Linked DNA regions of Homo sapiens. The protein of the gene in region 1 interacts with the protein of each later gene in a pairwise test. Each region holds a gene or a part of one and is shown on either strand. Other genes may lie near its edges. The genes, in order: SLC30A4 and PEDS1-UBE2V1.

Region 1 (3,818 bases):
TCTTGTCACCCAAGTTGGAGTGAACTGGTGCCATTATATAAAGCTTACTGCAGCCTCAGACTCTTACACTCAAGCAGTTCTCCCACCTCGGCCTCCCAAACAGCTGGTATTACAGGCATAAGCCACTGTGCCCCAACCTTACTAGCCATTTTTTAAATGCTGAAAAGCCACATGTGACTAGTGGCTACACCATTGGACAGCTCAGATACAGAACATTTCTATCATCTCAAAGTTCTATTGGACAGAATTGCTTTAAGGAATTATCCTCATTATAAAATGATAAGTATGCTAAAGCTCAAAAAAATTAACTCATTCAGACTTTCTGAGATTCCAAAACTTCATGTTGTTTAACACCAACCTTCTCTTGGTGCTTTCCAGCTTTTTCATGCCGGGGAATACATAAAAATGCTATTTGTATAGAGCACTCTGGGGTAAATGGATGTGACTAAAAGATCATCAGCCCCTAGTCTCCTGCTCTTGTCTCTACACACCCAGCTCAGGAATGAGGAGGATCAACAGCTCAGCACACTTACCTGATCATGCAGTTCTGCTGTACATTATAACAGTGATTCTCGAAGTGTGGTTCCAAGACTTGAAGCATCAGCATTACCTGGGAGCATGTTAGCAATATACATTCTCAGGTCCCATCCCCATCACCATCCCAGACCTACCGAATCAGAAATTCTGGGAGTAGAGTTAAGCAGTTTGTAGTTTAACAAGCCCTCCAGGTGATTCTGATACACATAAAAGCTTATTCAGTGAATAGTGCTAGGAAAATTGGTTGTCCATTATGGGACAATACAGACACACAATGAAACAATGTATAATATATATATTAAATGCCTGGAAAATCGATAACAAAAATTGTATCCTAAATACTACCTTTTGTACCCCTCTTCAGAGATGTTGCTAAGTGAATCAGTTAATTTTTACATATTTTATATCGAACTAATGTACATTTTGTAGGTTTTCTCAGTTTAATTTTATGTTCCAACGCCCCTCAACAAGTGAACACCCTTCTTTTCTTCAGCTTTGTTGTAATATTTAGATATGGTTATTAATTCACTAATAGTAGAATTAGTAAGTTAAGCAAAAGCTTCAGTACCAAGACACAAAATCACTATATATTTGCCTTGTGGTTCTTAACTTTCTAAAGGTCATTGACTCCTTGCAGCATGTGTTACTAGAAATGGATATTCTGGCTGGACACATTGGCTTACGCCTATAATCCCAACACTTGCAAGGCCGAGGCGAGTGGATCAGTTGAGGTCAGGAGTTTGAGACCAGCCTGGCCAACATGGTGAAACCCTGTCTCTACTAAAAATACAAAAATTAGCCGGGCGTGGTGGCACGTGCCTGTAGTCCCAGCTACTCGGGAGGCTGAGGCAGAAGAATCACTTGAACCCAGAAGGCAGAGGTTGCAGTGAGCTGAGATTGCACCACTGCACTCCAGCCTGGGCAACAGAGTGAGACTCTGTCTCAAAAAAAAAAGAAAAAAAGAAGTGGATATTCTCACCAGAAAAATGAACCTATATCTAATATTTTGAATGAAATTTCAGAATACCTTGATTTAATTGTAATGGGATAAAGATTTAGTTAGAAGTTCATGTTTTGTAGGATATTGCATATTTCTAGTTTGATTGCTTGCTTTTTTAAAAAATTAACTTGTTCCTTTTTTCTCCTACTTGTAACTCTAAGGTGGATACATTGCAAATAGCCTAGCAATCATGACAGATGCACTTCATATGTTAACTGACCTAAGCGCCATCATACTCACCCTGCTTGCTTTGTGGCTATCATCAAAATCACCAACCAAAAGATTCACCTTTGGATTTCATCGCTTAGGTAGGTAGTTGGTGTTTCTTTTGCTTTATAATATTTTATAGTAAAACCACAATGAACTATAACCCTGATTAACTGAACTCGTTCCAGTGATATCTTGTTTGAACAAAGCAAATGAAAATAGATAAACAAAATTTATTCAGAAACATCTTTTCCAGGGTACATTTAGCCTAGTCAGCTAAACAGTTTACACATATAAAATTATATGATGATCATTAATCTTCAAAGGTTGCTCCCTATGTCCTGAAGATATCATCAGAAAAAAGTTTACTTTCAGTTTATTGAACAAAGCAAAACCACATGGGTTTAACCCGTTAATGAGCATTAGCTTCTCTCTTTTACTTCAGGTATTTCAGCCAAAGCTACCATAGCTTAGATTTTAAGCAGAGCTATCACAGGTATAATGTATGCTGTGTGGCTGAACTTGACTGCAGCCATCGTATCAACATAATTCTGCAAATGCACACATTTTTATTTGCCTGTTTTGAACAAATTTTAATGTTTAATTATAAAGAGTTAAAATCATACATTGCTATCTACACAGCTCTGCTTCTTACTGTATTACTGTTTTTAAATTTTTTGCTTATTTTGAAAATATGTATAAAATAATTACCTGAACTATTATATGAAGTAACATTTACCCAGATGTCAGACTCAAAAGTAGAACCCAAAAGTTGACATTTAAGTAGCTTCAGCAAAACTTGCCTCAAAGAACTAGAGTTAATATCTGATAATTTCATTTTGTAGGAACACTGATGCTCCTGGCTAATATATCAATCAATTCCTCATCATCTTTTTTATTTTTTAGCCTAAAAAAACTTAGACTGTAGATTTTTTGTTTGTTTCTTTACCTATATTTTCTTTGTATTTGTTTTTTGTTTTTTGCTTTTAAGACAGAGTCTTGCTCTGTTGCCCAGGCTGGAGTGCAGTAAACTTTTTGTTTCTTTACGTACATTTTCTTTGAATTTATTTCTCGTTTTTGCTTTTAAGACAGAGTCTTATTCTGTTGCCCAGGCTGGAGTGCAGTGGTGTGATCTTCTTGCACTGTTGCCCAGGCTGGAGTGCAGTGGTGTGATCTTCTTGCGCTGTTGCCCAGGCTGGAGTGCAGTGGTGTGATCTCAGCTCACTACAACCTCCACCTTCCAGGCTCAAGTGATCCTTCCACCTCAGCCTCCCGAGTAGCTGGGACTATAGGCGTGCACTAGCATGCTCAGCTAATTTTTGTGATTTTTGTAGAGACAGGGCCTACCTACAAGGGGGTCATCCTTTGCCCAGGCTGATGTCAAACTCCTGTGCTCAAGCCATCCTCCTACCTTGGCCTCCCAGAGTGCTGGGATTACAGGTGTGAGCTGCCATGACTGGCCCACAGCATCCAGGACCTCTTACTTAGTGACTGGGTCTTCTGGTGCAAAACTTGACACTGTACCTAAATGGTGATATTCCAAGTAGCTATCCAGGTCATCAGGTTGGAAAATTATCTAGCATCCCCACCCCTCCGTACTCTCAGCTACTGTACAAAAGAGCTAAAGCCCCAAGTGAAGTTTTTCTTTTGTTAAGCTACTGCATAATGCATGTGAATGTGTTCCTGGCCAGGCACGGTGGCTCACGTCTGTAATCCCAGCACTTTGGGAGGCCGAGGTGGGCGGATCACCTGAGATCAGGAGTTCAAGACCAGCCTAGCCAACATGGTGAAACCCCATATCTACTAAAAATACAGAAATTAGCTGGGCATGGTGGTGCACGCCTGTAATCCCAGCTACTCAGGAAGCTGAGGCAGAAGAACTGCTTGAACCCGGGAGGCGGAGGTTGTAGTGAGCCTAGATCATGCTGCTGCACTCCATTCTGGGCGGCAGAGTAAGACTCTTGTCTCTCTCAAAAAAAAAAAAAAAAAAGAATGTGTTCCTAAAGGAAACTCCACTGCTTCTCAACATATTATATAGTCATTTGTTTACTGGTTGCCTTAGGATTTTTAAACA
Region 2 (3,818 bases), on another chromosome or scaffold:
GGATTACACGCGTGAACCACCATGACAGGCCACCCTCTTTCATTTCTTTATAGCCTTTATGATAACCTGTAACCATCTTCGTTAATTCTCTATTTTCCTGTTCTGTGTTTGTTCACCCCCCAATCCCCAACTGGAACGTTATCCCCAAAATGCAAAACACCATGTTCTTTCACTGCTGATCCTCAGTGCTTAGAATACAGCCAGGCGCAGAGTAGGTGCTGAATAAATATTGCTCACAATCTTACAGCCTTCCAGCTCACCATGAGGTAGATACTAATATCAGTCCCATTTTCCACATGAGCACACTGAGGCTTAGAGAAGAGTTTCCCAATTAGCAGGTGGCCAAACCAGGATTGGAACTCAGCCCTGCCTAAGTAGTTAACCCATCTCCTAAATAGCCTGAATTCTAATCCCTCCACCTGCCTTCCAAGGAGCACAAATTGAGGACATGAAAAAGAATGTTTTTTTGTGGTTCTCAGTTCTGTTTCCAGAAAGACCTAAAAAAAAATAGTAGCTGTAATTTATCAAGTACCTACTATATGCCAAACACCGCATTTGCCATTCCCACTATGGCCCTAAGAAGGTGATATATGAAGGAGGCGGCTGCAGCCCTATTTTGTAAGGAGAAAAGCGGTCCCCAGGGAGGTTTGTGAGTTGCCTAAAGGCACATGTGGAGAAGCTGAGAGTTAGGCCTGAGTTAGACTTGACAGCACCTGATACACTTAACCTTGAAAGCAGCCCAGCTGGCTCCAGAGAAACTCCCAGTTCACCTCACCTCTTTCGCACTGGCTGCTAACTGAGCATGGCACGTGGGCCTCCTTTCCCTTCCTCCACTGCACTGGGCATGTTCCTGCCTCTGGCCTGCTGCTTCCTGTTACCTTTGCTCTAATCTGTGCTCATCTATCTTCAGGGCCCTCCCACACTTCTCTCCTCCCTCTTCAGTTGCTCTGCCCCCTTCTCTCCTCCCTCTTCCACTGCTCTGCCCGCTTCTCCCTCTTCCATTGCTCTGCCTCAACTCCAGTCAGGAGCCTCTTTGCCATTCCGGAAACACACCAAGCAAGCAAAGGCCAGCCTCAGGGCCTTCGCACCTACTGTTCCTGCTGCCTAGAGTGCCTCCCACAGAGGTCTGCACGGCTTTGTCCCTCAGCTCCTCGGGGTCTTTGTTCAAGTGTCACCTTCCCTGACCACCCGATTTAAGAGGCAAAGCCCCCACTTCCTTCTCCCACCCCTGCTTTATTTTCCTCCATAGCAGTTAGCACCATTAGCCACGCTACACATTTTATTCATTCGTTCCAGCTCCCTCACTAGATGGTGAGTGCCACAAGGGCAAGGATCCGTGTTTTCTGGTTTTTTTTTTTTTTTTTTTTTTTTTGAGACAGTCTCTGTCACCTAGGCTGGAGTGCAGTGGTGCGATTTCAGCTTACTGCAACCTCCACCTCCCAGGTTCAAGCAATTCTCTTGCCTCAGCCTCCCGAGTAGCTGGGATTACAGGTGCCTGCCACCAAGCCCAATTAATTTTTTTTCGTATTTTTAGTAGAGATGGGGTTTCACCATGTTGGCCAGGCTGGTCTCCAACTCCTGACCTCAAGTGATCCACCCGCCTTGGCCTCCCAAAGTGCTGGGATTCCAGGCATGAGCCACTGCGCCCAGCTGATTCATGCTATTTTGTTTGCTGCAGGAGCCTACGCCCAAAGCACCATGGCATGTGGTAGGTGCTCAATAAATACGGGATGATGGGTGGCTGGAATCACAACGCCATGAAGTCGAGGGAGAGGGCTTTGTCAGTCTCATTTACTGTGTCCTCAGCACCTAGAATAGTGCCTGGCACACAGTAGGTGCTCAATAAATGCATGACCTGAGAGACTGTTCCCAGAGGGCAAGGACTGTGTGACCTCCTGCTGTGATCTCTGCCCTCCTGACCTCGAAGATGGTGCAGTGGCTGGGGTGGGGAAAGCCCATTCCACGCCACTGGTGGCCGCACCTGTGGTGATGCAGAAGTAGGTCTCGTGGGGTGAGACGTGGTGGATGCGATGGTGTTTACGTGGCAGGATGACATGCCAGTCCTGCAGGAGGGTGACCCAGCGTGGCAGCCCAAAGTACGTGTGCGACCACTTGTGGATCTGGTTGGTGAAGGTGCCGAAGATGATCAGGCAGAAGACGAAGCACTCCCAGGGGTATAGCTGCTCCAGGGCTTCTGCAGGTTGGGGAGAGGGGGGGCCGGCACAGCTGTCACTCGGGACGGGGAACCCACCCCAAATGGCCCTCACCACCTGCTCCTGGGCGGCTCCTGAGCTGGGCAAGCACCCAGGATTCTCTTCCACCCCCTGCAGGGCCGCAGGCAAGCTCAGGTGCTGCCCTGGGCTTCAGGCTTTCCTCCTGCTCAGGAAGCAGGCGTAATGGTGTAATAGGATAATGGCATAAGCATGGCAATGGCTGGGAATGTAGACCGGAGTCAGCTGGAGCTGGGTTCCGATCTCTGCCGACATTTCTTGGCAGTATGGGCTGGATCGGTGACTCTGCCTCTAAGAAGCTTAATTTCCCCATCAGGAAAATGGGAATGATGCCTTCACCCAGGTTCCCTAGAAGCGGAGCCTGAAACAGGTTCTTGTGCATGTGATTTATCAAGGGAGCCTCTTCAGGAAAAAACCTCGAAGGGAGGGAGGGAAGCAAGACACGGCAGGGGAAGAGCAGAGCAAAGATGGGGTGGGTGGCGTCCTGTCTCAGTCTGTTCCTGCAAGGAGCTCTGAGGTGTTAACGGCTCTTTAGAATTAGACCCACTCAGAGGCAAAGGGACTAGCGTCGGAGGCGTTTCAGTCACTGGCTCCAGCCTTATCCCAAGGAGACAGGTGGGACCTCCCCTCCATCCCTGGAGAAGCTGGGAGCTGTCAGCAGCCACCACTCACAGAAGCAGGGGCTGGGTGCACCCCCAGGGAAGGGGATGGGCAGGGTGCCATAGCACCCACTACACTACACGTCCTCACCACCTCTACCCACCGGAGGCTGCCTGAAGAACAAATGGGTGTTAAGGTGCTGGAACAGGACCGGGCCCCAACCTACCTCCACCTGACAGATAAGGCAACTGAGGCTCAGAGTGGTGAAATCACTTACTTTGGGACCAGTCCCTCTAAAAATAGGCAGGCCCTGTTTTCACAGCCTAGACATTTTCCACTAGGCCACGGTAGCAAAACCCCAGAAGCCCTGCCAGGCAGGTAACACAAATGAACAAGGTGGGTTGGGTGCAGGGAAGCAAGGAATAGTGGGGACGGTGGTAAACTGGAAAGACGCGTCCTGTCAAAGGCAGTGGCTGCAGCTCAGCTCCCACCCAGTGAGGCCAGGTGGGAACATGGACCCAGGGGGGCCAGAGCAGATTGTGCAAGAGAAGCTGGAAACCTCCATCTTCATGTCAGGTTTCCTGATTTTACATGAAGACAATGAATGAAAACTCTTTTAAAATACCATAAGGAGCCAAACACATAAGCCCCAGAAGGCTCCTGGGGGTCGGCCTCTGCCCCCAAGGCCCCCTCCCAGCCCACCACTAGCTGGGTGTCTCACCAGGGCTGTGGGTGCGGAACTTGTAGGCCATGTTTAGCAGCGGCAGCAGTGTCACCAGGCAGTTGTCCCCGTTGGTCTCGATGAAGTCGTGCCGTGTGATAGCTGTCGGGTCAATGTGGTGCTCCCGGAAGGGTCGGATGAAAGCCTGGAGTTGAGGGGGACACAGCCCCAGCAGTCAGCCTAAGGTGGTCAGCTGCTCTCCACAGCCCCCTAAACACATTCACCCTGGGCTCACCTCCCGCCTTTGATCCTAAGTTTCCTCCACC

The links.
Region 2: the proteins of SLC30A4 (region 1) and PEDS1-UBE2V1 interact in a two-hybrid assay, tested with the Homo sapiens proteins (one large-scale study listed by BioGRID).

The regions. Positions count from the first base shown.
Region 1 is NC_000015.10:45,509,165-45,512,982, reverse strand, and holds part of SLC30A4 (probable proton-coupled zinc antiporter SLC30A4), read left to right. Parts: intron 1-1,698; coding exon 1,699-1,845; exon of another isoform or gene 1,846-1,847; intron 1,848-3,818. UniProt on the Homo sapiens protein: Probable proton-coupled zinc ion antiporter mediating zinc import from cytoplasm potentially into the endocytic compartment. Controls zinc deposition in milk.
Region 2 is NC_000020.11:50,125,994-50,129,811, forward strand, and holds part of PEDS1-UBE2V1 (TMEM189-UBE2V1 fusion protein), read right to left. Parts: intron 3,698-3,818; coding exon 3,553-3,697; intron 2,195-3,552; coding exon 1,982-2,194; intron 1-1,981. Other genes in the region: PEDS1 (plasmanylethanolamine desaturase 1), read right to left, coding at 1,982-2,194, 3,553-3,697.